Homo sapiens: one gene and its partners. Changing the gene in region 4 together with the main gene of any one other region gives a genetic interaction. Each region holds a gene or a part of one and is shown on either strand. Other genes may lie near its edges.

Evidence for each region.
Region 1: changes in SSTR5 (region 4) and CYP11B2 together harm fitness more than expected from each alone (negative genetic interaction), as found in Homo sapiens cells (one large-scale study listed by BioGRID).
Region 2: changes in SSTR5 (region 4) and DBH together harm fitness more than expected from each alone (negative genetic interaction), as found in Homo sapiens cells (one large-scale study listed by BioGRID).
Region 3: changes in SSTR5 (region 4) and AANAT together harm fitness more than expected from each alone (negative genetic interaction), as found in Homo sapiens cells (one large-scale study listed by BioGRID).

Annotation. Positions count from the first base shown.
Region 1 is NC_000008.11:142,905,923-142,912,451, forward strand, and holds the end of CYP11B2 (cytochrome P450 11B2, mitochondrial precursor), read right to left. Parts: intron 6,172-6,529; coding exon 6,058-6,171; 3' UTR 4,637-6,057; downstream 1-4,636. UniProt on the Homo sapiens protein: A cytochrome P450 monooxygenase that catalyzes the biosynthesis of aldosterone, the main mineralocorticoid in the human body responsible for salt and water homeostasis, thus involved in blood pressure regulation, arterial hypertension, and the development of heart failure.
Region 2 is NC_000009.12:133,645,869-133,653,504, reverse strand, and holds part of DBH (dopamine beta-hydroxylase precursor), read right to left. Parts: intron 5,660-7,636; coding exon 5,493-5,659; intron 1,872-5,492; coding exon 1,728-1,871; intron 1,260-1,727; coding exon 1,221-1,259; intron 566-1,220; coding exon 506-565; intron 1-505. UniProt on the Homo sapiens protein: Catalyzes the hydroxylation of dopamine to noradrenaline (also known as norepinephrine), and is thus vital for regulation of these neurotransmitters.
Region 3 is NC_000017.11:76,463,860-76,472,293, reverse strand, and holds AANAT (serotonin N-acetyltransferase), read right to left. Parts: upstream 4,692-8,434; 5' UTR 4,567-4,691; intron 3,623-4,566; coding exon of another isoform or gene 3,548-3,622; coding exon 3,385-3,547; intron 3,178-3,384; exon of another isoform or gene 3,122-3,177; coding exon 2,967-3,121; intron 2,630-2,966; coding exon 2,324-2,629; 3' UTR 2,177-2,323; downstream 1-2,176. Other genes in the region: RHBDF2 (inactive rhomboid protein 2), read left to right, coding at 242-661. UniProt on the Homo sapiens protein: Controls the night/day rhythm of melatonin production in the pineal gland. Catalyzes the N-acetylation of serotonin into N-acetylserotonin, the penultimate step in the synthesis of melatonin.
Region 4 is NC_000016.10:1,070,098-1,078,216, forward strand, and holds the start of SSTR5 (somatostatin receptor type 5), read left to right. Parts: upstream 1-2,649; 5' UTR 2,650-2,725; intron 2,726-7,526; exon of another isoform or gene 7,527-7,615; intron 7,616-8,119.

The DNA of each region.
Region 1 (6,529 bases), on a different chromosome or scaffold from region 4:
AGATACTCAAAATATAAAACAAAATCACCTGTCTCCACATACACTAACACCAGGACACTTCTCCTTAACTTACAAGTTTTACTTATAGTAACCAGAGGACATATATCACTTCTCAAAGTACCCAACTGTCTTGGAAAAGACAGTCAATAGAACTTTCATTTCCCTGATATGTCCCCCAAATTTAATTTAATTTAATTGATAGAAATATATTCTCCTCAAACAACTCTTTTTCAAATCCTAGTCTGTGTAACAATTGGTAAATTAGTAAAGTATATGTAAAGATTAGTGGCATTTGTGTGTAACCAAGGAAAAAGAGTGGTTGTGACTGGATCATATTGTCACATGTCCCTGAAGAACATGGATCATGTCCCTGACATGGATCATACTGTTGTTCCAGGCCCTAACCTCTTCTTACTCCAGGCTGCTTGACTGACTCATCTCACACCAAGTTTTAAAAGTTTTCAGTTTCCCTTTCTTATTTGTAAAGGGGCATATGTGTCACCTTCATGTATAGGAAAACTTTTTATGTTGACTCCCCCATCTTTGTAAATTTTGGATCTTTGTTTGCCAACCCTCCTCATCCCAGGAGGGTTGGCCACCAGACTGGGGGGTGAATTATTTCCTGGGATCCATTAACCATGGATTGTACCATGGGGCAGGCATCTGCTCATCCGATACAGGACCCATTTGAGCCCAAACCTTCATCAAATCCAAAAATATAAACAAAAAACTGTTAAATGGAATCTGGAGGCTCAGCCCTCCTAATGTGGACCTCAGCACTTGTCCTGCTGGGGCTGTGCTGAGGTCCACGTGCCATTGAGTTTGGCTGATAAAAGCCTTATGACCAAAAGGCCCCCATGGCTTGACCTTCATTAACCACGCAACTTAGGCTCAGGGCCATTGCAATTGACCAAATTAGTGGGCCTGCCCTAGAGAGCATTAATGCTGGAGCTCAGCCTCAGGCTCATTATAAAACCATAGAGCTATAAACACAAGACCCACATCAACTCAAGTAGGTATCCACTAAAAAGAAAATGTTACTTGCACATCCCAGATGGCATCACTCTGGCCCAGGAGAACACCCAGGAGATGACATTGCCTTGCAGGACCTCAACTCAGCTCAAGAACTTGCCATTGGAGAAGATTTCTCCCCCAACTCAGGACACAACTTCATCCCAGGCTCTAAAATCTCAACTCCCCAGCAATGCCCATGACTGCCTTTCCTAATCTAAAAGTGAAGCAACAAATGAACGCACATAACTCACTCCATTTTTTGTTTAAAGGGCCTTTACTGATTCCTGCACATGGGCGAGGATAATTTTAAAGCATTGAGTTAATAATACAAAAACAGCAGTCATGTACTTTTTAAAACTAACTCTGAGATCAAAGGAAAAGCATGTAAACAGTTAACTATGTTTTGTTAAAGATTTACAGGGGCATTGAGACCTGACCAAGGACAAAGAAGTTTTCAGCCTCCTCGGACCCTTGCTGGCTCCTTGGAGTCTGTGGTCATTGGTCACCTCTCAATCACACCTCCCTCCTCTTCCTTTTTCCCTTAACTAAAAAGAGCCTAAAATTTGTACTGTATTGAGATGGTCTTGGTGACACTAGTCTGCCGTCTCCTCAGGTTGCTGGCTGTTGAATACACCTGCTTTTCCTCCCACCAACTCTTGTCTCTGGAGTTTAGTTTTCATGCAGCAAGCAGCCAAGCCTGGGTTCAGCTACACTAAGGCATGAACTGGACACAGGACATGGATTGCTTTTCTTTCTTTGGTTTTAGCAATTGTAATGAGTTTCTGCAGCTTGCTGACTGCTTAGCCTATCACGTTAGTTTGCTTTGGCTGCAATAACAAAGTACCCTGGACTGGGTGGCTTAAACAACAGAAAGTTGTTTTTTCACAATTCCAGAGGCTAGAAGACTTAGATGAAGGTGTTCGGGGGGATGGTTTCTGCTCAAGCTTCTCTTCTTGGTTTATTGACCAAATCACAGAGACACCCTCTGTTTGTGCCTGGGTTCTAATCCCTTTTCCTCCAAGGACACCTGTCATATTGGATTAGGGTCTACCTCAATGACCTGGTTTCACATTATTTATCTCTTTAAAGACTCTGTCTTCAAATACAGTAATATTCTGAGGTCCTGGGCTTAGGATTTCAACACAGAAATTTCTGGGAGACGCAACACATGTATAACACCCATGATCCTTATAAAATCCCTGATCTCCAGAACCACCCACACCCCTACACTCCCGTGCCGAAGAGACACCTGGAAAAGGTTGATGGTCTCTGTGCCACTCTGAAAATTAATGGAGATTATCACTTTCCCCAGAAGGTACTTGTCTCATATCAACATCTTACCTCCAGGGAAAGGACCACTCACTCTCCAGAAACTTCTCCTACTAATCTTGTCCAGGATTCTACCGTGACCTTCTACGCTGCATCTCTAACCATCACAACCACTCTTTTTCCTTGGTTACACAAAAATGCCACTAATCTTTACATATACTTTACTAATTTACCAATTGTTATGCTCCAAAAACATAATTGATCAACCTGCTACCTTGACACAAGCAACACACCAAGTATTATTCTTCAAATATATGTGTAGTTCTCAGGTGTATTGAAATTATGTTGTACAAATTCAATGCAATTCCCATCAAAATACCACCATCATTCTTCACAGAACTAGGAAAAACAGTCCTAAAACTCGTATGGAATCAAAAAAGAGCCCCCATAGCCAAAGCAAGACTAATCAAAAAGAACAAATCTGGAGGCATCACATTACCTTATTTCAAGTTATACTATAAGGCCATAGTCACCAAAACAGCATGGTACTGGTATAAAAGTAGGCACATAGACCAAGGAACAGAATAGAGAACCCAGAAATAAACCCAAATAGTTACAGCCAACTGACCTTCAACAAAGCAGACAAAAACATAAAGTGGGGAAAGGGCATCCTATTCCACAAATGGTGCTGGGATAATTGGCAAGCCACATGTAGGAAAATGAAACTGGATCCTCATCTTTCACCTTACACAAAAATCAACTCAAGATGGATCAAGGACTTAAATCTAAGACCTGAAACTATACAAATTCCAGAAGATAGCATTGGAAAAACCCTTCTAGACATTGGCTTAGGCAAGGATTTCATGACCGAGAACCCAAAAGCAAATACAATAAAAACAAAGATAAATAGCTGGGACTTAATTAAACTAAAGAGCTGTTGCACTGCAAAAGGAACAGTCAGCAGAGTAAACAGACAACCCACAGAGTGGGAGAAAAGCCTCACAATCTATACATCTGACAAAGGACTAATATCCAGAATGTACAATCAACTCAAACAAATTAGCAAGAAACAAACAAACAAACCCATCAAAAAGTGGGCTAAGGACATGAATAGACAGTTCTCAAAAGAAGATAAACAAATAGCCAACAAACATATGAAAACATTCTCAACATCACTAATGATCAGTCAAATGCAAATCAAAACCACAATGTGATACCACCTTACTCCTGCAAGAATGGTCGTAATCAAAAAATAAAAATAAGAAAATAGATGTTGGCATGGATGCAATGAACAAGGAACACTTCTAAATACTGGTGGGAATGTAAACTAGTACAGCCACTATGGAAAACAGTGTGGAGATTTCTTAAAGAACTAAAAGTAGAACTACCATTTGATCCAGCAATCCACCCAGAAGAAAAGAAGTCATTATACAAAAAAGACACTTGCACACGCATGTTTATAGCAACACAGTTTGCAAGTGCAAAAACGTGGAACCAACCCAAACACCCATCAATCAACAAGTGGATAAAGAAACTAATGCTAGTGCTTTCTCAATAATGACATCCAAGCATCACCAGGCCAATCATGTAATCATCCTTGTTATTTTCTGTGCTTCTGATGCTTTTCTGGGCTTGCATCCTGGACAGGATGCCCTACCAGGGCTGGCCAGTTACTACAGATGGTCAAGGTCCCCCCTGGTGAATGCCTTTCCTGTGAAGTCTTGCCAGCCACCTTGTTGCACACTCCAGGCCACAGCTCCCCTGAACAGATTCCCCCAGAGTCAGGCACCAGACAGCCAGAGACAATCCCTGTGACTCGCAGCCCTGGGTAATCATGCAAAGCAATCAGTCCCAAGCCTGCCTACCCTGCTTTCACTGGCTCCTCCCCCAGGAAGAACTAGAACCTCTGCCTTCAGATTGACCCGGATGCTTCCAATGAGGTCATGATGGCAAGAACAGCCCTGCCACTGCACGCTGTCAGTAACAGACTATTTCTTCAATCACAGTCTTCTCCTGGCCTGTGGGCCTCACCACAACTGAGTAATAATTAAGCTTACATTTAAAAACACAAAAATTTACATGTGGGACAGAGTTGCATGGAATTAGGCAGGCACACACACACACACACACACACACACACACCCATTCGCAGGCACACATTTCACTGGTAAGTTCTAAATAAGCTCAGTGAATCGTGCCACTGTCCATTTCCTGTTTTGAAGACTGTTCTATGTAATTGCAAGCTGCTGATGGTGGGAGGCTGTGTGAAGGGTGGCGGGGGGACCTGCCTGTATATATATGTCAACAAATTTGAATATATCTATAATAATTTTGAGATAAAAGGCTTTAAAATATTTTTCCAAGGTTTATTTTAGGATCCCATGATCTAGTGCTGACTAGAGGAGTTGGATGGGTATCTGTGAGAGCCCCATAAACAAGGAAGCCATCTCTGAGGTCTGTGCACCTTGTTGCCCCCTTATTCCTTTCCCATGCTGCACTGCATTGCCCAGGGTGGGAAAGCAACCTGCGGTCACAGGGTGACTGGCCTGAGTCCCTGAGTCCTGGAACTACTGAACACACCTGGAATGATTACCTAAGTATTTCCCCTTTCATGGGGGAACAAACGCTCTGATCCTCATCAGCTACCAGGAGCTGGCTGCTGAGATCTTTGCCCTAATGAAAATCCCAGGAGATAAAGATGATGTGGCTGGGCACGTTCTCACCCTGGGGCACTTCCTATCCCTGCACAGGAGCACTGGGGAGTGGCCAGTTCAGGAGGGGTCAACTCTCTCTGCTGGGCTAGGAGCAGATGAGGCCCAAGGCAGGTTCACGTAGGGAACTGCAGCCTCCCTGTGCCCACCCCAGGTCGTGGCACATGACATGGCTCCGTATCAACCAGAGGAATGAGTCAATAAAACTCATCTGAGTCCTTGTTGGCCCAATCCTGTCTCTCCTGTTGCCAAAAACATTTCTGGAACCACACCCCAGGTTCCCACCCCACATGACTCTTCCATCTCCTGACAGCATCCTCGGGACCTTCTCCAGGGGACAGCTCAGGAAGCAGAGGACCCAACACTCGCTGCTTGAACAAGACCTGGTCCATGAAAGACGAGGCCTGGGGCATGAGGCTGACATGATCAGCTGGGGAACACACGCCCCTCGAGACTCAGTTGTATCACTTGAAAATGTGTCAGGATAAGTGACCACAGGGGCCTTTTTAGTCTACCCTGCAGGATCGTATTCCAGGGTGACAACTTTCAGAGAGCTCAGGGCATGCTCGAGCTGCCTGGGGTCAGGCTGCAGGAGGGAACTTGACTGGACTCTGAGATGCTGGGATCCCGCTTAATGACTCTGACACTGTCTGCACAGAGGCCCTGGCCAGGGCGAGAGGGACAGGGACATGTGAGACTAGGCAGGAAGGCAAGGGACAAAATCACAGCACCCTTGCATGGCCTCATGAGGAGCCTGGAGCCAGCGCTGGGAGTAGAGTCAAGCTGTCCAGAGGGCACTGCTTGCTGGAGAAGGGGCCAGGTGGAGCTGGGGACAAGGCCAGGCCCTGCCAGCAAGATCGTCTCCAGCTGTGCCCTGGCCTTGCTATTTGACAAGCCTGGCAAGCCCCAGTCCTGGAGGCCCTGGGGAGTTCCATTTGTGCAGGAGCTGGCTGGACAGAGGGGTGACTCAGGAAGCTGTGCACGTGGGAGAGAAGACAGGTGGCCTGGGGTCAGGCAGAGGGAAGCTGGTGGCCAGGCTGGGACCCTGGGTGCAGATGCAAGACTAGTTAATCGCTCTGAAAGTGAGGAGGGGGGACGTGCCAGGCCTCAATATGAAGCTGTAGACCATCTTTATGTCCTCTTGAGTTAGTGTCTCCACCAGGAAGTGCTTCAGCACCTAGGACAGAGGCTGGGTTTCCATCTGGCCTGGTCAGTAGCCCATGGACCTGGGGCAGCTTCCTCCCATCGTCCCAGGTGCAACAATTATGCTGAAGGGGGAGCAGCAGCCTGGGCCCCAACCTATCCCACTTCTGACCAGCCCCACCTTACGGACCAGGCCCAGACTGAATCCTGCCCAGGTCTTGCCCAAGCCCCATTATTCTGTACAGGCTCCACCCCACTCCCCTAGTCCCCATTTCAATGTTTAGAAGCAGCCTCACCCAGATCCTACCCTGTCTTGCTCAGCACAGATCCTCCCTGGTCACGCCGACCTCAACCAACCAAGGCCCCATCCACTGTTCCCAGGTGTCAATCAC
Region 2 (7,636 bases), on a different chromosome or scaffold from region 4:
CTGACAAGGCCCTCCCAGGTCCCCGCACCTCTGCCTCCTCAACCTGGTTTTTAAAGTTTTGTTTTGTAATTTTGCTTGTTGTTAGCAGCAGGTGCTCCAGGCCTGTCTCCCTGGTGCACCTTGAGCTCCACGGGGCAAAGGTCAACCTCTTGTCCTACAGCTTCTCCCCACACCAGCCCCGGGTGCTGAGAAGCTTCTTGGTGTGAGTGCTTCTCAACCTTGAGCAGGGGTCAACATCCGCTGGGAGCTTGTTAAAACATGGATTGCCCGATGCCACCGCCTGTGTCTCTGACTCAGTGGGCCTGGGGTGGCACCCAGGAGGTTGCATTCATCCCAAGCTCCCTGGTGATGCTGCCACTGTGGTTCAGGGAGCTGAGAACGACTGGCTTATTGAGGGGACGAGCCCATGCCCTAAGTGAGGAGTCAAGACCTGTCATCCTTCCTCAGATGGCTCAGGCTGAACACTCGCCCTGGGCAGGTGCAGGGGGAAGCGGGGGTGACTTACCACTGTGGCCAGCTCCCGGTCTTCTGTGTTGTACGTGCAGGAGGTGATGAGCACATCTCCCTGAGGAAAAGCCAATGTGACCATCAGCACCTGCCACCTGGCGTTGGCAGGTGCTGGAGGCCTCGCCCCCATAGGACCACGCCACTGTGCATGCCACGGCACCTCTGGGGTACAGTCCCTGTCGTCCACTACAAGGAGCCCAGCAGATTCATGTGCGAAGGTCACAGGCTGAGTGTTCCCGAGCAAGTTATAAACCATCAGCTCCTGTGACCCAGTGGGTCACAACAGGGCCAGGGCCCAGGCCAGTGGGGGTGCAGCTGGTGGGCCATGACACATCTCAAAGGACTTGGGCAAGTCCCCACCGAGGCCTGGGCTTGGCCCTCTGTGGGATCAGGGCTCCACTGCCTGCCTTAGTGCCCTCATCTCCCCCAAACACTCTCGGGTTTGTGGTCGGCCCATCAGACTGAGGACACGCGTCCCCTGGGAGTGTCCTGTCTGCTCCACTCTTTCCAACGTCTCTCCATGAACTCCTGAGTGAGTCTCCCCATGAGGTAGCCCAGCCCAGAGCCACCCACAGGCACCCTCCCCCTGCCCTGGATGGCTCTCCCTCCCCCTATCACTTTCTGTGTCCCTCTCCTTCTGGTGGCACCCCCAGCCCTCTCAGCCACCCCAGCTGGTGGCAGTGAGTGGGACAGCCTTCCCGCTGGGCACTCACCGGATGGACCGACACGACCTTCTTCAACATGCGGATCTCCTGGGGCAGGCAGAGCCGAGGGGTGGGGGAGAGGAGACCTCAGAGAGCTGCAGACCAGACCCCCGGCCACTGTGTCCTCCCTCAGGCCTCCCTGACCTCTGGGGGTGTCCATTTTGCCCCAGCCTCTACAGTGGAAGCCAGAGCCCGCTAAGTGTGGCTTCTGGCCAGGGAGGGCATTAGATTCAAACCAGAAGGTGGTTATCCAAGACCAAGATTGATGTTCCCAGAGGGCCGCCTGGGTCTCCCGAATCCCACCACCATCTGCCATGTGCCAGAGGCCTCCCTACGATCAGACACCAGACACCCAAGTGGGGAGCACAGGCCACATGGGTGGGGGGCGGGTGGGGCTGGCCCAGGAAAAAGAAGCCAGCCTGGAGCCATCCCTATGGTGTCAGGAAACAGTAGACCCAGGAGGTCGTGTGGTGGCAGGGTGTGGGGGCGGGGCAGGGGTGGGGTGCAGGTTCCTACCTGGAAGTGAGGGCTGTAGTGATTGTCCTGGTTCACGATCTCCCACTCCCGGCCGTCCCGGACCAGCACTGTGACCACCTTTCTCCCAGTCAGGTGTGTGTGGAGCTGAGAGGCGAAGATGTGGATCCCGGAGGGAGGCAGTGCCTGTGGGGTCGGGGGGCTGCAGTGTCAGGGCCTGACCCCCGAGGGGACCCTCCCGTCCATGGCCAGGACCCGGTAGGGAGCAGCCACCCTGGGCAGTTTGCTTCCCTGGAACACTTGCATTTTCTAGGTCTTTCTCCCCGGCCAGGTTAGAGCCACCATCAGAAACCTCACGGGGAAGAGCGAGGGGGCCGCAACAGCCCCCAGCTCCCAAAGAAGCAGCCCCTAGTCCCACTCAGGAGCGACTTTCTTTCCGAGTCCTTCATCCTCTCCTGAGCCCCTGAAGCCTGACAGGTTCATCTTCACTCAGTCAACAGGCCTTTAAGGCGAGCCTCCCGTGGACAGGGTGTGGCAAAGCCACCAAGCTGAGCAGCGCGTGGCCTCTGTGCTGAAGAGCTTGCTGTCCAGGGAAAAGCAAGTGGCAGAAGGTGGTACTTGGCAGGTCCCCTACGTGGTGGGCCGAGCAGGACCTTCAGCTGCCCTGCGTTGTGGCTTCCTTTCAGCTTCAAAGCAGCCAAGGCTGCATTCTCCCTGTGCTCAGCATCACCCCGTGCTACAGCTGGGAGCTGTAGCTACAACTGGAAGGTGGTCATCCAGGACCAAGATGGATGTGACCATGGGGTGCTGCAGCTGGACACTCTGAGGCTGCAGGCCGGCCTCACAGAAAAGATGGCAGCCCTCATCTCAAGAGGTCTTATGCCATCACTGGGGCATGAGAGAATCTTCCAGAGAACGAAAGTTTTCTCTAACCTAATGCTAACTTTTTTTAGATAGAAAATGCATTTCCATGGCTGGGCATGGTGGCTCATGCTTGTAATCCCAGCACTTTGGGAGGCTGAGGCACATGGATCATTTGAGGTAAGGAGTTTGAGAATAGTCTGGCCAACATGGTAAAACCCCGCCTCTACTAAAAATACAAAAATTGGCCGGGCATGGTGGCACGTGCCTGTAATCCCAGCTACTCAGGAGGCTGAGACAGGAGAATCACTTGAACCCGGGAGGCAGAGGTTGCAGTGAGCCAAGATTGTGCCATTGCACTGCAGCCTGGGCAACAGGAGCGAAACTCCATCAAAAAAAAAAAAAAAGAAAGGAAGGAAGAAAGAAAAGAGAAGGAAGGAAGGAAGGAAAGAAAGAAAGGAAAGAAAAGAAAGAAAAAGAAAAAGAAAGAAAAAGAAAAGAAAGGAAAGAAAAGAAGGAAAGAAGGAAAGAAAAGAACACGTCTTTCCTGAAATCGAGCATTTTCTTTGTGAGTCAGTTGTCCTTTTGCCCACCCGCTGCCAGGCTCTGCCCAGTTTGTTCATGCAGTCAGCAGGTCCCAGAGCTCAAGGTCCCGACAGCCCCATCCCTGAAGGTCCCAGATGGCCGAGCTTTTTAGGACTCACTTTTGCTCCTTCCCTCTCGCTCCCAAGCAGCGGCCGCCCTGACCTTGCCGTCGCCTATAGCTTTGTGTCCCTTGCAATGGCTTGAGAGGCCACTGTGTGCCAGGCCTGGGAGCCCAAAGGGTCCCAATGCCCCTTTGGCCCCCAGAGGCCGACCCTGGCCCAGAGATGCCAGGTGTCGGCCAGGTGGAGGGAGGACTATGCTCTTCTGGGCACTCTGGTCCAAAGCAGCACTCTTGTCTTGGCCTATTTCACTGGGATAGCTAGACTAGGCCAGATTTTGGCTGCAGAATTTGTGCCCCTCTTTTATCTGCCAAAGGAGAGACAAGACTGAACATTCTCATTCTGTTACTTAAGGTAGTGGAGGACTCTGGCAAGGGGAGGCGGGTCTGTATTCCTGAGGCTGGAGAGAGGCGTTCTCACAGTCAGCGGTCAGCGGGGTCGAAGGCCCCAAGGCCCTGCAAGGGGCAGTGAGTGCTGCCTGGCCGGAAGCCGCTCTTCCCCATGAGCCCTGGCCAAGGTGCCTTTTACATGGGCCCACGCTTCACCAGTGGGCGCTTTAGGGAAGTGGGAGAGAGTGTCCACCCCCGTCTGGGACAAAAGGAGCTGATTTCCTGCCGGAGACAATGGGTGCCATGCCGGCTGAGAGCTCCGTCTCCCTTCAGCCTTGAGGAACCTTTGCTTGGAAGACTGGGATGCTCTGGGGGCTCACCCACATGAAGAACAAATCCCAATCGACCCATTTACTAGGAAGGAAAATCCACTCTAAACCTCATTACAACGAAATCTGCTGTCACGGCCACAGCTTTCAAAGTCAGACAGACTGGTATTTGAATCTTCACTCTGCGTGACTGCTGGCAGTGTGATCCCAGCAAGCCTCAGTCTCCCCATCTGTGAAATGGGTACGTCAACACTTACTTTGCAGGTCACTGTGAGAAGTAAAGCTACCGCACAGGAGGAAATGTTTGTAACATATACACAAACTATGAAATAACATCCATCATATAAGAAGAACTCCTAGAAACCAACAGTAAGAAAAACAAACCACCTACTGGAAAAACCGAGCATAGGAATGAACAGAAAACAGGAACAAATGGCCAAGAGGCAGAGGAAAAGATCCTCAAGTCCACAAATAGAAAATTCAAGTTAAACAACACTGACATGTCTTCCTCCCAAATGACAGAAAATATTTACAATATTAATAATCCAGTGGGTCAGTAAAACCGGGCACCCTCTCGTCCTATGTGTGGGAGGGAGCAGAAGATGGGCTTTCTGAGGGGCATTTTGCAAGATTTACTCAAGGGAACACTCACATCTCTGAGCAGCAATTTCATGCCTAGAAATCTACATGAGAAAATGGTTTCCTACATGGACAAGGATTTCCCAGAAGCTTCTTTCTATTGGTGAAAAGTTGAGAACAGCCTAGACACTGATTGATAGGGAGACAGTTCAGCACAGGCTTGGACCAAGATAGGGCAAGCAAAGGAGGAGATTTTAGTAGTCACTCTCTGAACTCACCAGAAGCCAAGGACAGGACCTGCTGTTGGCGCCAGTCTAAGCGCCAACCTGTGCCTCCACCCAGCGTGCATAGCCCTGAGGACGGGTGCTCCCTGAGATCCTGTACCCGGCACTTCACTGCCTCACCTAGTCCTGCCCTGCTCAGGTGCGTGGTGAAAACCCCATCCTGTGGAATACTATGCAGCAATAAAAAGGCAAATCACCAGAAAAATGCCTCCCATTTGTTGAAAAATTTGTTAACTATTCAATACAACTTTTTAAAAACACAAAAGGTTTCTAACACCTGCAAGAGCTTCCTGAAATATACAGGAAAAAGGTCTGGAAGGACACAAAGAGCCAAGAAGTGGCTATCTCAGGGGGAGGCGGCAGCGGATGAGGGGAGCGTTCTCTTTAGCTGCAGTGCCTGCGCTTGTGAGTGGCAAGTGCATGTGTGTGTTGCTTACATAATGAAGGCATATTTTAAAATGCAGCTCGTGGAAGCCTGGCACGTGGGTGTGGACTAGTGGGAGCCATGGTTATTGCTGGAGAGGGAGGTGCATACACACACAAATGGCCTCTCAGCAGCAGGGTTCCCTTGCATACAGAAAAGAGGGAGGACCGCAGGGGGATTCAGGGTCAGGGGAAACCAAAGCTGTGCCTGCCACCCTTCGTGGGCCACGACCTGCCAGGCCTCCACTGAGGGACGCGGGAGGAGGGAGGGTGCAGTGCCGGGCCCAGCCCCACTCACCAGCTGGGTGCACTTGTCCGTGCAGTAGCCAGTGAGGATGAAGGCGGTCTCCCGTGGTGGAATGGCCATCACTGGCGTGTACACCAGTCCCAGCTCCATGATCCCCGCGTTGAAGCGCCGCAGCTTGGCTGTGTAGTACAAGCGGATGCCTGAGGAGTCGTTTCGTCCTGGGAGAAGGTGGGATGGATGGAGGTGAGCGGTAAGTGGAGGCCCTCTCACTTCCCCCTGCGGACAGATTATCCCTATGACCCCAGCCACCCTCAGCCAGGAGGCAGGGCCGGTCACCCCCCATCTGCTCCCACCTGCTAGGCAGACCAAGAGCTGGCTGTCTTTGTTTCCACACCTGTGGATGCCAGGCAGCTCGCAAGATCAATTAACGCAAACAGGCTACACTCACTGGGAAGAAAGAGCTGCTGTTTCTATGAAAACTAGTTGAATGCTATGGAAAGATGTGATCAACGTGAGCCACTTAAAGCCTCCATGGAATCAGGTGCGGGTGAGATGCTGCTGATAGACGGAAACTCGTAAACAACTTGAGTTCTGTGCTCAGATTGTTTCATAAGTGCTTTGATGTTCTTCTTCCACGTTCAAAGGAACCTAAGCTGGAAATCAGCCTGCAAGACGGTGACAACCTGCAGGGTGTGGTCTGGGCAAAGAAGAGGGCATGGAACTCCCATCTGCCGATGGCACAGAAGAGCCCTGGCCCTGCGTCAAAGCTGGGCAAGTGTGAGTGTATCTCTGTGTTGAGGTTAACAAGAAGCATTCAAGGAGCACATCCTCCCAGCAGCCCCCACTTTTACTACTTTGATTTATGTCCTGCAGACCCAAGGAACCCACCTACCAAGCTGACATCTCAGGAACAATTTGAGTGAGAATGTGGCCCCCCAGGAGGAGGGCCAGCGTTGCAGGTCTAGCCCCCGTTCATGCACAGGCCAGGTCCTGCTTGGTCAACAGCGTGCTGTGTGCTCTCAGATGACTTGCTGTCCCTTTATGAGCCTCAGCCCACACTCAAGGGCCTCTTCCAAAGGAATAACATGGTGCTTCTTCGAGTCACGGAGACTGTGTCTCCTGATTATGGTGTGGCCACACCTGTTAGTTCTCCTTGCCGTTTGCTAATTGGAGAGTCCCTGAAGCTCCCTGGGCCAGCCTCCCAGTGGTCACATGAAACTGATGGTCAGAGGTCCAGGGGGCCGGGCACGGTGGCTCACGCCTTGTAATCCCAGCACTTTGGGAGGCCGAGGTGTGTGGATCACCTGAGGTTGGGAGTTCGAGACCAGCCTGACCAACATGGCGAAACCCTGTCTCTACTAAAAATACAAAAATTAGCCAGGTGTGGTGGCACGCACCTATAATCCCAGCTACTCAGGAGGCTGAGGCAGGAGAATCGCTTGAACCTGGGAGGCGGAGGTTGCATTAAGCTGAGATCGTGCATTGCACTCCAGCCTGGGTGACAGAGTGAGATTTCGTCTCAAAACAAAAAAACAGAGGTTCAGGGATGCTGGCACCCACTCGAACATCCTCACAACCAGGTGTCATCCAGGTAGCCCCACCGTTCCTGAAACTCCATGCCTAGTGAATCAGCAGCCAGGCTCTGAGTACCGGCTGGGCTCATGGTTGGCGGAGGATCTAAAGGCCTGGCCCCATGCCCCCGGATGCATGGTGGACATGGTGGACATGGCGGACATGGCGGGGTGGTCTGGAGGGGCTGTGCAGCAGGAGGCTCTGCCCCCTGGGTTATGTACAGGAAAGGGATGTCAGGCGGCAAGGAGTGTGAAATTGACAAGGGGTTTTAATTCACAGGGAAGAGGCTTCTGATGAAGTTTAAGTAAAAAAACAAACAACAATGAAAAAAAAAGATATAAAATTCTAGTCACAAGAAAAAAATTAATGGGCCAGAAAAGCAGTCAGGACAGACACATAGCTGGGTGACCAGTGCTCACTTCAAAACTTGGAGCCGGGAGCTGGGGGGTGGTTTCATCTTCTTCATGCTTTTCTGCTGTCCATCTTCTCACCAGTGTACATGCATTGCCCTTTCTGATCAAACCAAGAGGGTGGTACAGATACTAACATCTTCCCTGGGTGCCAAAAATGCTCTAAGCATAACCTACCCCTTTCATGGAAGTTTTGCACAGTGAGAATCATCA
Region 3 (8,434 bases), on a different chromosome or scaffold from region 4:
CTTGCTTATTGCTACGGACCCACACCAGGCACGTACACAGTAGGCGCTCAGTGTTTGCTGAAAGAATGGGCGGAGCAGGCCCAGCTTTGGTCCAGCAGCTCCAGCCGACCCCCTGCCCCTCAGCCTCAGGGGTCCCCATGCCTGCCAGGGAGGAGCTGATCGATGGGATGACCCAGGGTGCAGGCCCGGCCCAGGCCACCCACCTGATGCCTGAAGCCACGTCTCCCCTGCCCCGCCCCAGGTGGGCCCGGCCGGCTCACAGTTCGGCCTCCTCGCCTGCCTCTTCGTGGAGCTCTTCCAGAGCTGGCCGCTGCTGGAGAGGCCCTGGAAGGCCTTCCTCAACCTCTCGGCCATCGTGCTCTTCCTGTTCATCTGTGGCCTCCTGCCCTGGATCGACAACATCGCCCACATCTTCGGCTTCCTCAGTGGCCTGCTGCTGGCCTTCGCCTTCCTGCCCTACATCACCTTCGGCACCAGCGACAAGTACCGCAAGCGGGCACTCATCCTGGTGTCACTGCTGGCCTTTGCCGGCCTCTTCGCCGCCCTCGTGCTGTGGCTGTACATCTACCCCATTAACTGGCCCTGGATCGAGCACCTCACCTGCTTCCCCTTCACCAGCCGCTTCTGCGAGAAGTATGAGCTGGACCAGGTGCTGCACTGACCGCTGGGCCACACGGCTGCCCCTCAGCCCTGCTGGAACAGGGTCTGCCTGCGAGGGCTGCCCTCTGCAGAGCGCTCTCTGTGTGCCAGAGAGCCAGAGACCCAAGACAGGGCCCGGGCTCTGGACCTGGGTGCCCCCCTGCCAGGCGAGGCTGACTCCGCGTGAGATGGTTGGTTAAGGCGGGGTTTTTCTGGGGCGTGAGGCCTGTGAGATCCTGACCCAAGCTCAGGCACACCCAAGGCACCTGCCTCTCTGAGTCTTGGGTCTCAGTTCCTAATATCCCGCTCCTTGCTGAGACCATCTCCTGGGGCAGGGTCCTTTTCTTCCCAGGTCCTCAGCGCTGCCTCTGCTGGTGCCTTCTCCCCCACTACTACTGGAGCGTGCCCTTGCTGGGGACGTGGCTGTGCCCTCAGTTGCCCCCAGGGCTGGGTGCCCACCATGCCCCTTCCTCTTTCTCCTCCTACCTCTGCCCTGTGAGCCCATCCATAAGGCTCTCAGATGGGACATTGTGGGAAAGGCTTTGGCCATGGTCTGGGGGCAGAGAACAAGGGGGGAGACACAAGTAGACCTCAGGTAGAACGACACTGGGCGGAGCCACCCCAGGGCCTGCTCCCAGGGAGTGCTCGAGGCGCATCAGGCCCGTTTTTTACCAGTTTATATCACGGTCTTCATTTTTAAAAGTAACGCTAACTTTGTACGGACGATGTCTCATGGATTAAATAATATTCTTTATGGCAGTACATTGTCTTTAACGGAGACCTCAGGTAGCATGAAACTGGGATTTGGGGGTGAGGTGAGGGGTCAGCCATCAGCTGCTCAGAGACAGCAGTTTGGCCCGGTGGACAGCAGAAAACTTGTGGAGCATCTTGGGGAATTAGTTGGGCCAGAAAGCAGATTGGGGTCACGTGGGAGACCCCAGGGGTCCACTTGGGAGGGCTGGGTTGAATCCTTAGGGCCCTGGGGTTCCCACCCCTACCTGTTCTGCCTTGGCTCCAGAGCAGGGAAGGGGCTGCCTGGGCCCAGGGTGGCCTGCCCTGATGGGGATGGCACTGAGGGGACCTGTCACCCCACCCGGGGACGAGTCCACTCCCTGTGCCAGTGCCTCACCCACCACACTGAGGATGGCCAGTGAGGCACCGGGTATGACCACTTGATTACCATGGGCAGAGGGCCCTGCACCAGCTTCCCTGCCCCAAGCTGCCTCTACAGCACAGGCCTCCCGCCTCTGCCCCATCCTGCTGCTCCCCACTCTCCCCCACCCTAGGGGCTAAGGGTGGGAAGCGGCATCCATGAGGCTGGGGAGAATAAGGACACCCCCCCCCCCCACCGAGCAATGGGCTACTGTGAGGATGCCGCCTTGGTGCCTTTGCCCACCTGCCAGGAGGAAAGGAGCCAGGAACCCCACAGCACCTCCCATTGTCCCCGCTTACCAACCCAGCCCGGTCTCAGGTACAGAGTTCAGAACACAGGAGGTCCAGAGGCCTCGTGGGGACAGACAAGACACACCACTCCAGCTCAGGCCGTGAGAAGCCACCTTATCTCCTCTTTATTTAGCCCTGCTCTCTCCACTCTCTGGAAACTGCTGTCTCCATGCTCAGCTGAGCTAAGAGGAGCCCAGGGCAGAGACGGGGATCATGTTGGCAGCCAGGTGGGCAGCCCAGTTCAGCAGCCGCTGTTCCTGCGCAGGAAGGGGTGGCCCCGCAGGGAGCAGTGGAGCTCCATGAAGGTGAGGGAGCCCACGGTGATGGCGCAGGGGCCCACGGCGTGGAAGCTGAACCTCTCATAGAAGGGTACCAGCGCGTCCTCGCACATGAGCGCGGCCCGGCGCACGGCCGGCTGGCTGCCCAGGTGGTGCAGGTAGCGCCACAGCAGGATGGGGCCCCTGCCCTGCTGCCGGAAGGCGCGGTGCACGGCCAGCACATGCAGGTGGGCTATGTGGCCCCCAGACCTGTGCAGCGTCAGTGACTCCTGGGAGCGAGCAAGGGATGAGATCCCAGGTCACTTCTGCTGACACGTGCTCCCCCCCAACCACCAACCCAGGCAGGGAGCAGGTGTCCCCTGGGTGCCTGTGGTCAGGGCACCCACCCCAGCAAAGGAGGGCCCCAAATTGGGAGCCATACCCCCAACCCCATGGAGAAAACTTGAAGACCCAGAAGGTCTTGCTCTGGGAGGGGCCTGTGGCCTGTACTCATCTCTCCAGTTCTGGAGGAAGAAATCCCAGCCCCTGGGCTCCCCTCCCCGCCATCTGGCTGACCTCTGTCTTCAGAGGCCTCCCTGGAGCTGGGCGTCGCAGCCCTGTCCTCACCTGCATGAGTCTCTCCTTGTCCCAGAGCGAGCCGATGATGAAGGCCACAAGGCAGCCCTCCTCGAACCAGCCCAGGGACAGCTCTGGACATAGGGTCAGGAAGTGCCGGATCTCATCCAGGTACAGGGGGCAGACGCCCAAGACGGAGATGAAGGCTGTGGCAGGAGGCTCAGGTGGGTGACTGGTAGTCGCTGTGCCTCGCGTCCACTGTCTGCTGCACCCCGAGTGTCCACTCAGATGCCCCGTTCCCCACAGGAAAATGGGGGTTAGGGCTGCTGTTTCCCCCACTTTCTTGAGCGCACACATGGTCTGATACTCTGGGACCCAGCCTCCAAGGACAGGAGACTAAGGGTCTCCTCCCCACAGGATAACTGGACCAGAGTGGAGCATCCCTCTGACCCTGTGCGGGGCCACTCACCTTCACGCTCGATCTCAAAGGCGCTGACAGCGTCCTCCGGGGTGAGGCAGCGAAACTCACTGGCAGGGAGTGTGTGGCGCCGCTGACAGCTCGGGGACTCGGGGATCCCAGGTGGCAGACGTGGGGCCTCAGGTTTCAGGGGGTGGGTGCTCTGCGTGGACATTCTGGCCACTGGTGCCTCCTTGGGGCGCCCCAGCTTTGGAAGTGTCCTCCTAAGCCAAGGAGGGCCTCCCAGCACCTGTTGGAGAACAGCAAGGGACAGGGGTCTCATCCTCATCTCCAGGGAGGCAGGCCCCAGAGTATGTATCTGGCCTCTTTTGTAGCAGGAACTGGGGTGGAGACAGCCCCTAAATCAATGGGCACATTCCCCAGGTACCTGGTCCCCGAGGCTGTTACCAGGCATTGCAAACATTGGCACTGTCTCCCCACCTTTCCCTCTCAGCCAGAAGGATCCCTGGAGGTTTGCCACCTTGCAGACCTGCAGACATTGGTCTCAGGGTGCCGTCTGGGTGCTTCTGAGCCCCAGAGATGGTGGCAGGGATGAGCAGGGCTCAGTGGAGCCTGGGGCACCCCAACCCTGCTGCCCACGGTGGGAGGGGAGGCAGGACTCGTGACCCTCCACTGACCACGTCTAATGCAACTGTGCAGTGGGTGGGCGCCCGGTTCCCCCACACCACCATTCATGTGGTTTATCTTACCTCCCCAGAGGGAGGCTTCTGGTCCTTTGGGTGCAAGATCCTGTGGCAGAGAGCTTTTTAGGTAGCCTCAGCCCTTGGTCCTAGAGAGCCCCTTAATCAAAGTGGGCCCTTAGGGAGCCTCTACTTCTATCCAGATGGCCTCAGACTGGGCCACACACATGCAGGATTTGTGGTGGGGGGTGGGGAGGTTAGAGGGAGCCGGGGGCTGCAGAGGGCCTGGGGAATGGGGAGGAGCAGGCAAGGAGAGTGCATAGGACACCCCCTGCCCCACACATCCAGCTCATCAGACATTCCCCTCTGGGCACTCTTGTCTCCCAAGACACCCTGCAGATTTGCAGTTCTTAGAGGAGGCCATCCCTCCCTCCACCTTCCAAGACACTTAATAAACTCCATGGCTTCCATGTTTCCCTCCATGTCTAGAAGCTCCAAGTAGAGAAGCTCCTGTTCCTAAAGGCTGAGAGCCAGGAGTGGGGGTCCCACCTACCTGGACTGTGGAGAGGATACCCAGTGTTCCCTCCACAAAGCCGCTAGCCCTGGGGGCCTGTCCGCAGGCACGGGAACCAGTAAAATCCGGGACTCCGGGCTGCAAGGCTGTAGTAGCAGATGTTCCCCGGGCAGCCTGTGGTGCTGTTAGAGGTTTGTAATCCCCCCACCCCACCTCTCGAGCTATCCCAGGCAGGATGACGCCAGCAGGGCTCTGGCAGCCTCGGCCCCTGCCTTGCTGAAGGGAAACGTCAGCTCTGGTGCCCTGGGCACAGAAGGGATTACCAGAGGCTGACTGAGGCCCCAGGGTTTGGGGAAGAGAGCGTGGGGCTAAGCCTCAGGGGTCCATCTCTAATCCCTGCTCTGTCACCGACTGGCTGGGCACCAGCGATTCTCCCTCTGTCCCTCGGAGTCTTGGACAAGCCCACCTCTTATGTGGGGGGAGGGGGTGGGAATTCAAGCTACCAATTTGTGCACTTTAAGTACGTTCTACTTCAAGTTTATTTAAATATTTAATTTAATTAAATATTTAAATATTCAGGAGGTTGCCCTACCAAACATCTCAACTACAAAGCTCTCTGCTATTGACCTTGGCTCCACCCATTCCCAGGGCTGCCCAGGCCTTGGCACTTGGTGCTGGCATTCCCTCGGGATGCAGGCCCCTCTCCCTGTTGGCTCTGACTACCCCCTGCCCTCCAGCTCACACCCCATCCTGCACCCCTTAGCTCTTCTCTCGCCAGCACCTGCCTCTCCGCCCCACCCAGCAGTGCAGATCCTGTGTCCATCTCGGGCTCCTGGGGGTCCTGGAGGTTGGATTTCACAGGTGCACTCTTTTGACCCCCTGCAGAGGAAGCTTCTGCTCCTACCCACACAGCTTGGGACGGACCTCTGAGGGTCCTTCCTGTCCTGGCAGCCTGTGAGTGCCACTGCTTACAGCACTTGCTATGTGCCGGGCCCTGGATACGCGTCTCCTTTAATCCACACGGAAGCCCGGCCAAATGAGTATTAACCACGTTATAGAGAAGGAAACCGAGGCACAGACAGGTTCAGTAACCTGCTCAGAGCCATCCAACAAGTGAAGGGGGAGGGGCAAAGCCGGGTCAGCCTCCTGACATGCACTGCCACGGCTGCACTGGTGGGACCCACTCATCTCACAATGAGACTCCTGTTTCCTGTCTTCATGATTCTCCTGCTGGTTTTCAGTGTCCTCACAGGTGCACTCTTTCGACCCCCCCGCAGAGGAAGCTCCTGTTCCTACCCATACGGTTTGGGACACAGCCCCTGACCGTGGAGTGACCCCGTCCCGATGCCCCCGCCCACCCACCACATGCATTCCTCCTGTCTCTGGGTCCCCTTCTCCCAGGGCCCCTCTGCACTCTGAGGCCCACCTGCCTGCTAGAAGGGACCCTCAACAGACCTCTCAGGACCGACCAGAGACCTCCTTGGGCTTGGTTGGTGGGGTGGTCATGTCCAAGACCTCAGCTGGGCATCCCCACCTTCAACCTCCAGGGTCCCCCAAAAGGCCTCTTCTGTCCCTTCATAGACTGTGGCTCCATGGCACCCCCTGGTGGCCAATCCTAATCAGTCACTTGGCGATGCCTGAGAAGAGCCTGCTGTTCAATCGGCCTCTCTCTTTGCTGACTTCCACATGGCCCTGTTCTTTCCGGACAACACCCTAGAGGTCTAGAACCTCAGGGAACAAGATGAGGCAGTAAGCCAGGCACAGTGGCTCACCGCTGTAATCCCAGCACTTTGGGAGACAGAGACGGGAGGATGGCTTGAGCCGGAGAGGTCGAGGCTGTAGTGACTCGCCACTGCACTCCAGCCTGGGCGACAGAGCGAGACCCTGTCTCAAAAAAATACAAATAAAAATAAATTTTTTTTAAAGATGAGGCGGTATGTTAAACATGGTGAAACTGGGAAGTTCAAACCCTTGTGGGACAGGAGAGGAGACAGGGGAGGGCAGGGTGATCGCTGGGACCTTTGTCCTGGTCAACAGGAAGAAAACCACATACCACCACCAATGAGAAGGAAAATAAGGAGGGTGAGGGGCCCAACAGGGTGATGGGTACAGAGAGAAGGAGATCCCTGGGGCTGGGCATAGTGGCTCACACCTGTAATCCCAGCACTTTGGGAGGCCAAGGCAGGAGGATCACTTGAGCCCAGGAGTTTGAGACCAGCCTGGGCAACATAGCAAGACCCCTGTCTCTACAAAAAATTTAAAAATCAGCCAAGCATGGTGGCACACACCTGTAGCCCCAGCTACTTGGGAGGCTGAGGTGGGAAGATCACTTGAGCCTAGGTGGTTCAGGCTGCAGTGATGAGCCACTGCACTCCAGCCTGGGTAACTGAGCAAGATGTTGTCTCAAAAAAAAAAAAAAAAATCCTGACCTCAGGTGGGCTCTAAAAAAGAAGCACCTCCGAGATCATCCTCACGCCAGGGACACCGATTGCACTGTTTATCAGATGCCCAGTCTTGTCCTGCTATTGCAGTTAAGAGTGCTGGCAACGCCTCTGGTGACTGCCTCTCAGGTGGATCTTGGGGATGGGGGGGAGAATGTGTCCTTTGCCCCCCAAGTCGTACCTGTTCAGTCACTCTAGACAGCTGATAAACACCTAACCTGATGGGCAAGGCCGGGCACGGTGGCTCATGCCTGTAATCCCAGCACTTTGGGAGGCTGAGGCGGGTGGATCACCTGAGGTCAAGAGTTCGAGACCAGCCTGGCCAATATGGTGAAACTCCGTCTCTACTAAAAATACAAAAAATCAGCCAGGTGTGGTGGTGGGCGCTTGTAATCCCAGCCACTTGGGAGGCTGAGGCAGGAGAATTGCTTGAACCCAGGAAGCAGAGGTTGCAGTGAGCCAAGATCGTGCCATTGTACTCCAGCCTGGGCAAAAAGAGTGAAACTGCTATCTCAAAAAAAAAAAATATATAGATACAGACAGGGAGAAGCTGGCATCTGTATGTTTCCCAGGGGTGCTGTAACAGATGATACACAAACTGGATGACTGTAAACCACAGAAATGGCTTGACGTCGTGGCTCATGCCTGTAATCCCAGCACTTTGGGAGGCCGAGGCTCTTTGTTCCCAGCCTCTCCCTCCAGCAGCAGCTCCCTTGAAAGTCCTGTATCCACAACTCACCCACCGCGACTCCCTGCCCAGTGTGTACCATGCCACCCTGCCTCACCCATGATGGCTCCCCTCAGGGGTCCCCCTGTCTCTCCACCCAGCCTGGCCTCTTTCGATCTCCCAGACAGATTTACACATTTCAAATGCCAGATGGGGTTCAGTTTTCTCCCAAAAGGCTCTTCGGTCCCATGAAAATCATGGTCTGTGACTGGGCTTCCACTTCAAGACTCCAGAATATTCTTTTTTTTTTTTTTTTTAAGACAGAGTCTTGCTCTGTGGCCCAGGCTGGAGTGCAATGGCACAATCTCGGCTCACTGCAACCTCCGCCTCCCAGGTTCAAGCAATTCTCCTGCCTTAGCCTCCCAAGTAGCTGGGATTACGGGCGCACACCACCATGCCTGGCTAATTTTTTTTATTTTTCCTAGAGATGGGCTTTCGCCATATTGGTCAGGCTGGTCTCAAACTCCTGAACTCAGGTGATCCACCTGCCTCAGCCTCCTAAAGTGTTGGGATTACAGGCGTGAGCCACCGCACCCAGGCAGGACTCCAGAATATTCTATAGCAGTTTGGAGAGGGGTTGTCCAGGGCACACAGAGAACTGCCAGGGACCATGCTACCTAACTCCCCACCTGCCCTGGTAGAGCCTCACCTCTGACCCATCAGAGCCCCCATCCCACTCCTAATCAGATGTGGTGAGGATGATGACGACAGTTATTGAGCGGATAACTGATATCATGAC
Region 4 (8,119 bases):
CCCTGAGGCTCTCAGACACCAGGACACCCTCCCAGCCCAGTCCCAGCAACACATGCCGGCAGCGCCTGCGCCAGTGTTTTCTTCTCCTGTCGGGAGGCTGGTGACCCGCTGTGCTGCCCCGGTGGGGGGCTGATCTCTGACCTCCTGTCTGGCGGGCTGTGCTGCACCAGCCAGGGCCGGGAGGTGCACGTGGACCCGTGTTTATTGGAATCCTGCTGTGATCAGACCCGGGGGCGACGTCGAGACCCACCAGGCCCCGTGGCCTCCTGTGAACATCTGCAGGCTGTTGGGGGCAGCGGTCGACGGAACAAGTGTGGGGCGGCCCGGGCTTCCCGGAGGAAGCGTTGCTTGAGCTGCCAGGGGAGTTACCTGCAGAAAGGGAGGTGGGGTGCACCAGGCAGGGGGGCAGCCAGGGCAAACGCCTGATGCTCAGAGGGTGACAGTGGGCAGCGGGGCCCTTTGGAGGAGCGGAGGGAGGGCCCTGTTGGCTGCAGGGCAGAGTGCCCCACACTCCTCCTGGCCGCCACCCCCAGGGCCCAGCCCAGTCTGGGGACTAAGACGAGAGGCCTCTGGGGTGTTCCAGGTGAGCTGGAGTCAGCCCCTGTTGCTTTTGAATAATTACAGGGGAGTCAGCCCAGTGACCAAGCCTCTGCCTGGTGGGGGAGGGGCACGGGCTTTGTGTCCGGGAGCTGCTGTCCTCAGCCTCAGGAGAGGGGGTGTCACGGGCCGTGGGACAGGTCACAGTTAGGGTGGGGTCCCTGGAGAGGGGTCTGAGGACCGTCCCTGCGGAGTCCATCCAGCCACCATCGGTTGCCATGGCTACTGGCAGCCCCTAATCCTCACGGTGCTGGGTTTGACCTCTGCAGCGTCCCAGGCGGGCATGACCTCATTTGATCCTCCTGGGGTGGGTGGGACTGAGGCCAGGGGACTCCTGCCCAGAACTCAGGGTGGCCGATGTGGGGAGGGGCACTGTGGGGCCGACAGGTCCCCTCTCTGGCCATCAGGCCCCCAGGAGGGCCCAGGTGCTTGGAGGTGGGGGGTGTCCCAGCTTGATGTTGGGGATGTGAGTAGATCCAGCGCCCACCCACCCGCAGGGCTGAGCTCCCACTGGGCGCTGGGCCGTGACTCGCACACCGGACCCTGCACCCCTGGGGCACCCAGTGATTCCAGAACAGTGGGACCCCAGAGGCTTCTCAGGGAGCCCCAGAACATGACAGATGGGGGCCCAGGTGCGAGGCAGTGGGAGCTGGAGGAACACAGCCAGGGGCTGAGGCGAGAACCATGAGGATGGTGGGCAGAGGCTGAGGGGAGGGGCAGCAGATGGAGATGGGGGAGGCGTTAGGGGTCACAAAGGGGGTTCTCAGAGGATCTGCCTTGGGAAGCCACTGCTGTGGGAGGGTGGGAGGGATACAGCCCAGGTACCTCCAGAGAGGATGGAAAGGCTTATGGGGCGGATTCTGGGCAGGGGACCTGGGACCAGCCTGCAGCCTCCCCTGAGGGCCTGGCCATGGCCGCAGGCTGGGGAGGAGGGGAGGGGACCTTGGGGCCAGGTGCCATGGTCCTCTAAGCACTCTTGCTCGATGGTAAACATAACACGCGCTGCTTGCAGAACATGTGGAAACACTGAAACGCTTAAAGGAGAGAACATGGTCCCGGTACCCGGCCTTCAAGGGAGCTGCTGGCGCCTGTTCAACAGGAGCCGACCCCACCTGTGAACAGACGGCAGGCGGCTGCTCCCATGTCCCCTCAGAGAGGGGCCCTCCGAGTTCTGCTGTCACCTGGGGGCGCCTCACTTCATTCAGCCAGTGGCGGGGCTCCCTGGGTCGGCACAGAGTCAGGGGAGGGGGCTGGGGGACCTCCTGGTGGGAAAATGTCCGGTGATCCCCAGCCTCCGCGCTCAGCGGGAGGAGGCGCTCGGTCCCGCTTCTTACAACCAGCGGCGCTCACGGCGGGCCCGGGGATCAGCATCCCGGGAGCTTCTCAGGAATGCAGATTCCCAGGCCCTCACTGCCTGGGGAGTCGGGGGCCCAGCTCGAGGCCCAGGAATCTGCTTTGAGGACCCAGGTGACTCTGCTGCCTGCCTGAGAACCCCACCTTAGGTGAGGGACTAAGGTGTACCCATGGATTCATTTCAGGGGAAATAAAAAGAACAACTTAGCAGGTAGTCTATGCTTAAATATGTGTAGGATCCACAAATAAGGCATGGATAAAACCCGAGTGGAGTGTCCTGGAAATCCCACGACCACGGACCCCCCTCGCTGGGGCTGCCTGCCGCCCCCACCAGCCTCCACACACCCACTTATCTCCACAACCCCAGCCCACCCCTCAGAGACGTCTGCAGAGCCCCTGACCCTCTCCCCTTGAACAAGGACCCTCCACCCTCTTCAGACTCTCGACGAGGGACCCCCTGGACTCCTGCTGGCGGCAGGACCCCCACCCCAAGCTGGGGTCTACCACAGAGCGGACAGCAAGAAAATAGGGTGGGGGCGCAGGCGATCATGGGGTCACTGCCAGTGGGACCAGGGCTGTGGGCGAGTGCGCCAGGGTTCCCGGAGGCCAGACGTGGGACCCGGGAGTCGAGCAGGTGAAGCGGCCCTGCCCCGCCCCCACCAGGCACTGCCCCGCCCCCGCCCCGCCCCGCCCCCTCCCAGCCGGCGCCCGGGAGCCCGGAGCCAGTGCCGCGCGGACATCGGGGCTCCCCCGTTCAGAGGGCGCCGCCGCCCAGGTGAGTGCCGCCCGCCCCTGTCCCCCTCCCGCGCGGGCACCCCCTGCCCTCGGCTGTTATCCCCACTGGGGGTTTCACCCTGTGTGCGCAGCCCCGGCCCGGGGTCCCGCCGTGCGCCCCCAGCCCGCTGCACGCACTGTCCCCCACGCGCCCTCCGCACACCCGCGGGGCTCTCCTGCCGCCGCCGGGGGTCCCTCCCCTCCCGTTCCATCCACTCCCAGCAGCTCCATCCCTCCCATCTCCTGCCCCCACCCCACAACTCACCATCTGCAGGCACCCCGTGTGCCAGGGTCAGCCCAGAAGCCACAGGGGACCCAGATGGCCCCACTCTGCCCACCGCGCCGCTCCCGGCCTCTCCTCCCCACGACGGGGGCCACAGCGGGGCTGGCTCCTGGAGCTGGAGGAGGGTGGGTAAGGCTGGGGAGGGCTCGGAGCCTGGGGCTGGGGGCCGGAAGTGGCACTCAGGCCACAGGGAACCACTGGGCCACGGAAGGAGGGTCCCAGGGTGCCCGTGGCACCCAGCGAGGGGAGGATCCGCAATTTGGGTGCCGGGGGAGGCAACTGGTGCCTGCGCGCAGCTGGGTCGGTGAGCTCCTGGAAGGCAGCAGGCAGAGGCCAGCACCCAGGGGCCCTGTGACCTGGCACTCACAGATGGGTTCCCTGAAACCCAAGACTGGGGAGGCTGGGGTGCCACCCCGCCCGCTGCGAACAGAGCCCCCTCCTGTCCAAGGCACCGCGTGTACCTGGAATCCTCCTGGCGTCTTCACCCTCTCCAGAATAGAGAACACGCCACTGGGGTGTGTGCCCTTGGCCCTCCTCCCCCACCCCAGACCCACCCACGTGCCCGACCCGCTGTCCCCAGCCTGCCAGCCTGCCTGGGGCCCCCTCAAGGGCAAGAGAGCGGAGTGCATGGTGACAGAAGTTGGGGATGGTTCCAGTGAGGCTGAGCCCTTTCTGAAGGCAGTGATTCTGGACTATGTAGGTGGGGACTGCCAGAGCCTCCTGGGCAGAAACTGGTCAACAGCACCAAGGACAGGCGCCTGGCGTTGATTTCCAGAGCAAGACCCAGCGAGGCTGTCAGGAGGTGCCTGGTGTGGAGGGTGCCCCGAGAAGCGTTCGCGGAGCACGCGGGACCCCTGCTGCTGCTGCTCCAGGCTGGCCCACACCTGCCTCAGTTTCCCTCTCCTGGGGAGGGTATGTGCCCCTGGCCACAGGCTGCCGCAGGGACAGGTGGCGTGTATGTGGGGGACAGGCAGGGGTGCCATTGGCTGCACTCACAGAGCTGGACCCCAAGGGGGCAGTGGCCTGCCACCAGGCCACCCTTACGACAGAGGAAACAGGTCAGAACGCTTGTCCTGGGAGCACAGGCCTGGCTCCGGGGCCTTTGGAGGGGCTGGGGCCTGTAGTCTTAGCTAGGGTGTCCCCCGACGTTTGCCCCTGCCCAGCACACAATGGAGGAGCCCGGGTGGGTCTGCAGCCTCTCCAGGGTGCGGCGTGGGCCCCGGCCGTGTGAGCCGCTGCCTCCCCGAGCAGCAGGTTCCGCAGCCCCTCCAAGCTGCAGCCGCATCGCTGCCCCCCATGAAGGAGCCGACTCCCCGACCTCGTGCTGGGTTAGCCTGGAAGGAGTTGGCAGGGTGCAGGCTAGACCTCCACCCAGTCATGGAGGACTTGGTGCTGAGGCCCCGCCTCTGGTCCCAGGCCCCTGTGAAGACTGCCCCCTTCTCCGAGGAGCCCAGCGGCCTCCTGGATGCTGGGGAAATGCTGGGCTGCTTAGGGCAGCTTGTGGGAGCAATCGTTGAGCGCCCAGTGTATGCCAGCCCCGCTGTGGTCCCCGTCGTGGGGAGGTGAGGCCGGGAGCGGTGCTGTGGGCAGACTGGGGCCATCTGGGTCCCCTGTGGCTTCTGGGCTGACCCTGGCACACCGGGCACCTGCAGATGGTGAGTTGTGGGGTGGGGGCAGGAGATGGGAGGGATGGATGCTGCTGGGAGTGGATGCACGCAGCACCCTGCACACAGAAGCTCACTCAGTTTCATCAGCTCAGCAACCCTACAGTTTGCAGGAGTTGCCTATCCCAGAAGCTGGGCTCAGAGAAGCCCGTGACTTACCCCAGACCACGCAGCCCGTGTGGGGAGTGGTCAGGGGCCGGGGTCTCTCCCAGTGCCATGTCAGGCTGAGCAGATCCCTTCGTGGCCGAGGGCTCGGGATCAGAAAGCTCCTACTGCTGGCTCCCCCTCCAGTGAATCCCCCACCCACAAGGGACAGGGCCACCGGGACAATTCCCCGTGAGTGCGTAATTTTATGATTCAGAGGATACTGCTTCCAAATAACGGCTCTTGCAGAATTATGTTCCAAGAGTCAGGTACAGCAATAATGGTCTATTTGTGTCCTTTGCTGCTCTGAAGTCTAACTCCGGAGGTGGAGCACTGGGGGCCGCAGAGCCGGGGACCTGGCAGCCTGTGGAGCCCCTCGCTGGGCTCTGGGCATGGGAGTGGCCTTGGAGGAACCCTGAGGCTCCTCTGAAGCTAAGAAGCTACAAAGACAGGGAGGCTGAGGCAGGAGGATCACTTGAGCACAGGTCGAGGCTGCAGTGAGCTGTGATCACAGCACCACTTCGATCCAGCTCGGGCAACAGAGCAAGACCCCATCTCGAAAACAAAAAATCAAACAGGCATTTGGGAACCACACGTGCTGGGGACCCAGGGCCTGTGTTGGAGATGGACCGGAGCCCGACAGCCGCCCTCTCCCTGTCCCACCATCGGTGGCTCCTCTGTCCCCTCCACCTGGCCTCCTTGCTACGGAGGAATGGGCCGAAAGTGCCTCCCCAGGGAGGGTGCAGCTCAGAGGCCTCTGCACCTGGGCCGCCATCCCACCCACCTGGACTCCCACGCAGCCCGCGGGCTGTCTCCAGACCACTGTCCTTCCGGAATGCATGCTCCACAGGCAGCCAGAGGGAGCCGCAAACATGGCGTGTTGGATTTCCATGCTGGTCCCTGGGGAGCGGAGAGCCACAGGCCTCTTCCCCTCCCTCTCCCTCTCCCTCCCTCCCTCTCTCCCCCTACCCTGTCTCTCTCTCTCCCCCCCCACTCTCTCTCCCTCCCTCTCTCCCCCCACCCTGTCTTTCTCTCTCCCTCCCCACCTCCCCCTCTCTCTCCCTCCCCCTCCTCCCCCTCCCTCTCCCCCCACCTTTTCTCTCTCCCTCCCCACCTCCCCCTCCCTCTCCCTCCCCCCTCACCTCCCCTCCCTTTCCCTCCCTCTCTCCCTCTCTCCTCCCCTCCCCCTCCCTCTCCCTCCCTCTCTCCCTCTCTCCTCCCCGCCTCCCCATCCCTCTCCCTCTCCCTCCTCTCTCTCTCCCCCTACCCTGTTTTCTCTCTCCCTCCCCGCCTCCCCCTCCCTCTCCCCCATACCCTATCTTTCTCTCTCCCTCCCTGCCACCCCCTCCCTCTCCCTCTCCCTCTCCCTCTCCCTCTCCCTCCCTCTCTCCCCACACCCTGTCTTTCTTTCTCCCTCCCCACCTCCCCTCTTCTCCCACCCCGGGGTCTGCGTGGAGGCCACTGCTCCGTCCCTGCTGAGGATTCTGCTGCACTCTGGCTCCTGCCTGTGGGAATCCGTCCTGTCTCTCTGGCTGGTGTCTCTCTGGCTGGCGTCCCTGCCCAGATGCCGCAGCTTGATGGGGATGCTCTTTCATTCCTTTATGCTGCTTGGGACAGGTGCGCTCCCAGAAGGGATCCTGTCGCCAGTTCTGGGGGAGCCCAGCCATGCTCTCCCCCTGCCCACCCCACAGAGCCCTCTCTGGACCTTGTGCCAGCACCCTGCTCCAGTGAATCTTTCAACCCTCTTCCCATTCACCAATTCTCTCTTCAGTGCTGTCCACACTGGAGTTGGTTCTGACCACTTTTGTAGTGTTTTTTTCCACTTAAATGATTGTATTTTTTACATCCAGGATTTGTAATTTTTAAAAATAGATGCCTGTTCATTTTACTCCTTAGACAGAAGCCAAATGTATTTCCTAACATTTTATCCATGCTGTCTCTGTGGATCCTGCACATATTTAAACATAGCCTAAGCGTACCTGTTTGCTCGTTATTTTTATCTCCCTGAGATGGATCCATGGGTCCACTGGCCCTGTTGATTTTCTGAGTCGTATTTCTTAGTGTGTTTGGGCCATGCGAGCTTGGGGATGTTGATTTCTAGGTTTGTTGGGGACAGAGGGCTTTCTCTTTGTGCTGTCAGCCTTGTGTTCTGGGCTCCCCCGTCCCCAGCTCTCCTTTCCTTGTCTACCAGATTTCAGTGGCCTTGGCCCAGCCCCACAGCCCCCAGCCAGGACTGTGGCCTTTCCTGGCAGCTGCTGGGGTCGTCCTGTGCTCTGAGGTGCCTCCAGGGTCAGGGCCGGTCAGCTGAGCAGCCCCAGGGCTCCAGACGGCACATGCTGAGGTCACCACAGCCGGCTCCACCCCTGCTCAGGCCGAGGTCCCCCAGGGAGGGGCTTGTCCCTGGTCTGGATCCTAGGGGACACTTTGATTCTCTGCTGGCCACCCCCAGAGTCACACAGCTCCAGGGTCAACCCAAACATCCGGACTTCCTCCGCCCCACTCGTCAGGGGAGGCATTGATCTTCTTTTTGAGACAGGGTCTTGCTCAGTCACCCAGGCTGGCGTGCAGTGGTGTAATCACAGCTCACTGCAGCCTCAACCTCCTGGGCTCAAATGATCCTCCTGACTCAGCCTCCTCAGTGGCTGGGACTACAGGCGCCCGCCACCACACTTGGCTAATTTTTGTATTTTTTGTAGAGACGGGGGTCTCACCATGTTGCCCAGGCTGGTCTTGAACTCCTGTCCTCAGGTGATCCACCCGCCTCGGCCTCCCACAGTGCTGGGATGACAGGCTTGAGCCACTGCACCCAGCCGGAGTATCATTTTTATGAATGATTTCAAACATGCAGAAAAATACAAAAACAATATACGAGGTACACACGTGCCCATGGCCTTGGACCCACAGACGTCACCATTCCCAGCCCACCCTTCTCCATGGACACCCCTCCCTCCCCTCCCCCAAGTCTCCCCTGTTCTCTCTCTGGGCCACAGTGGGGGGTTCCAGGGCCTGGGAGGGGGCTCAAAGCTCCGATGGGACTGGGCAGTGTCAGGTGGCTGCAGCCCCCATACGCTATGCCTCTGACCCGCCCACACCCCCCACCGCGGCTTCTCCTCCGGGCTGCAGGGTGTGCAGCCCCCGCCCGCAGTCCCCCCTCCTTCGCCCTGTGTGACTCCTGGGGCTCCGTGTGACCACTCTGTGTGGTTTGTGTGTTTGCTTCTCTGCAGCCGCCCCGTGGGGAGGGTGGTGTCTCTCTGGCCCTGTGCTGTGCCCCCGCCTGGGTTTACAGATGTCTGTCATTGCTGTG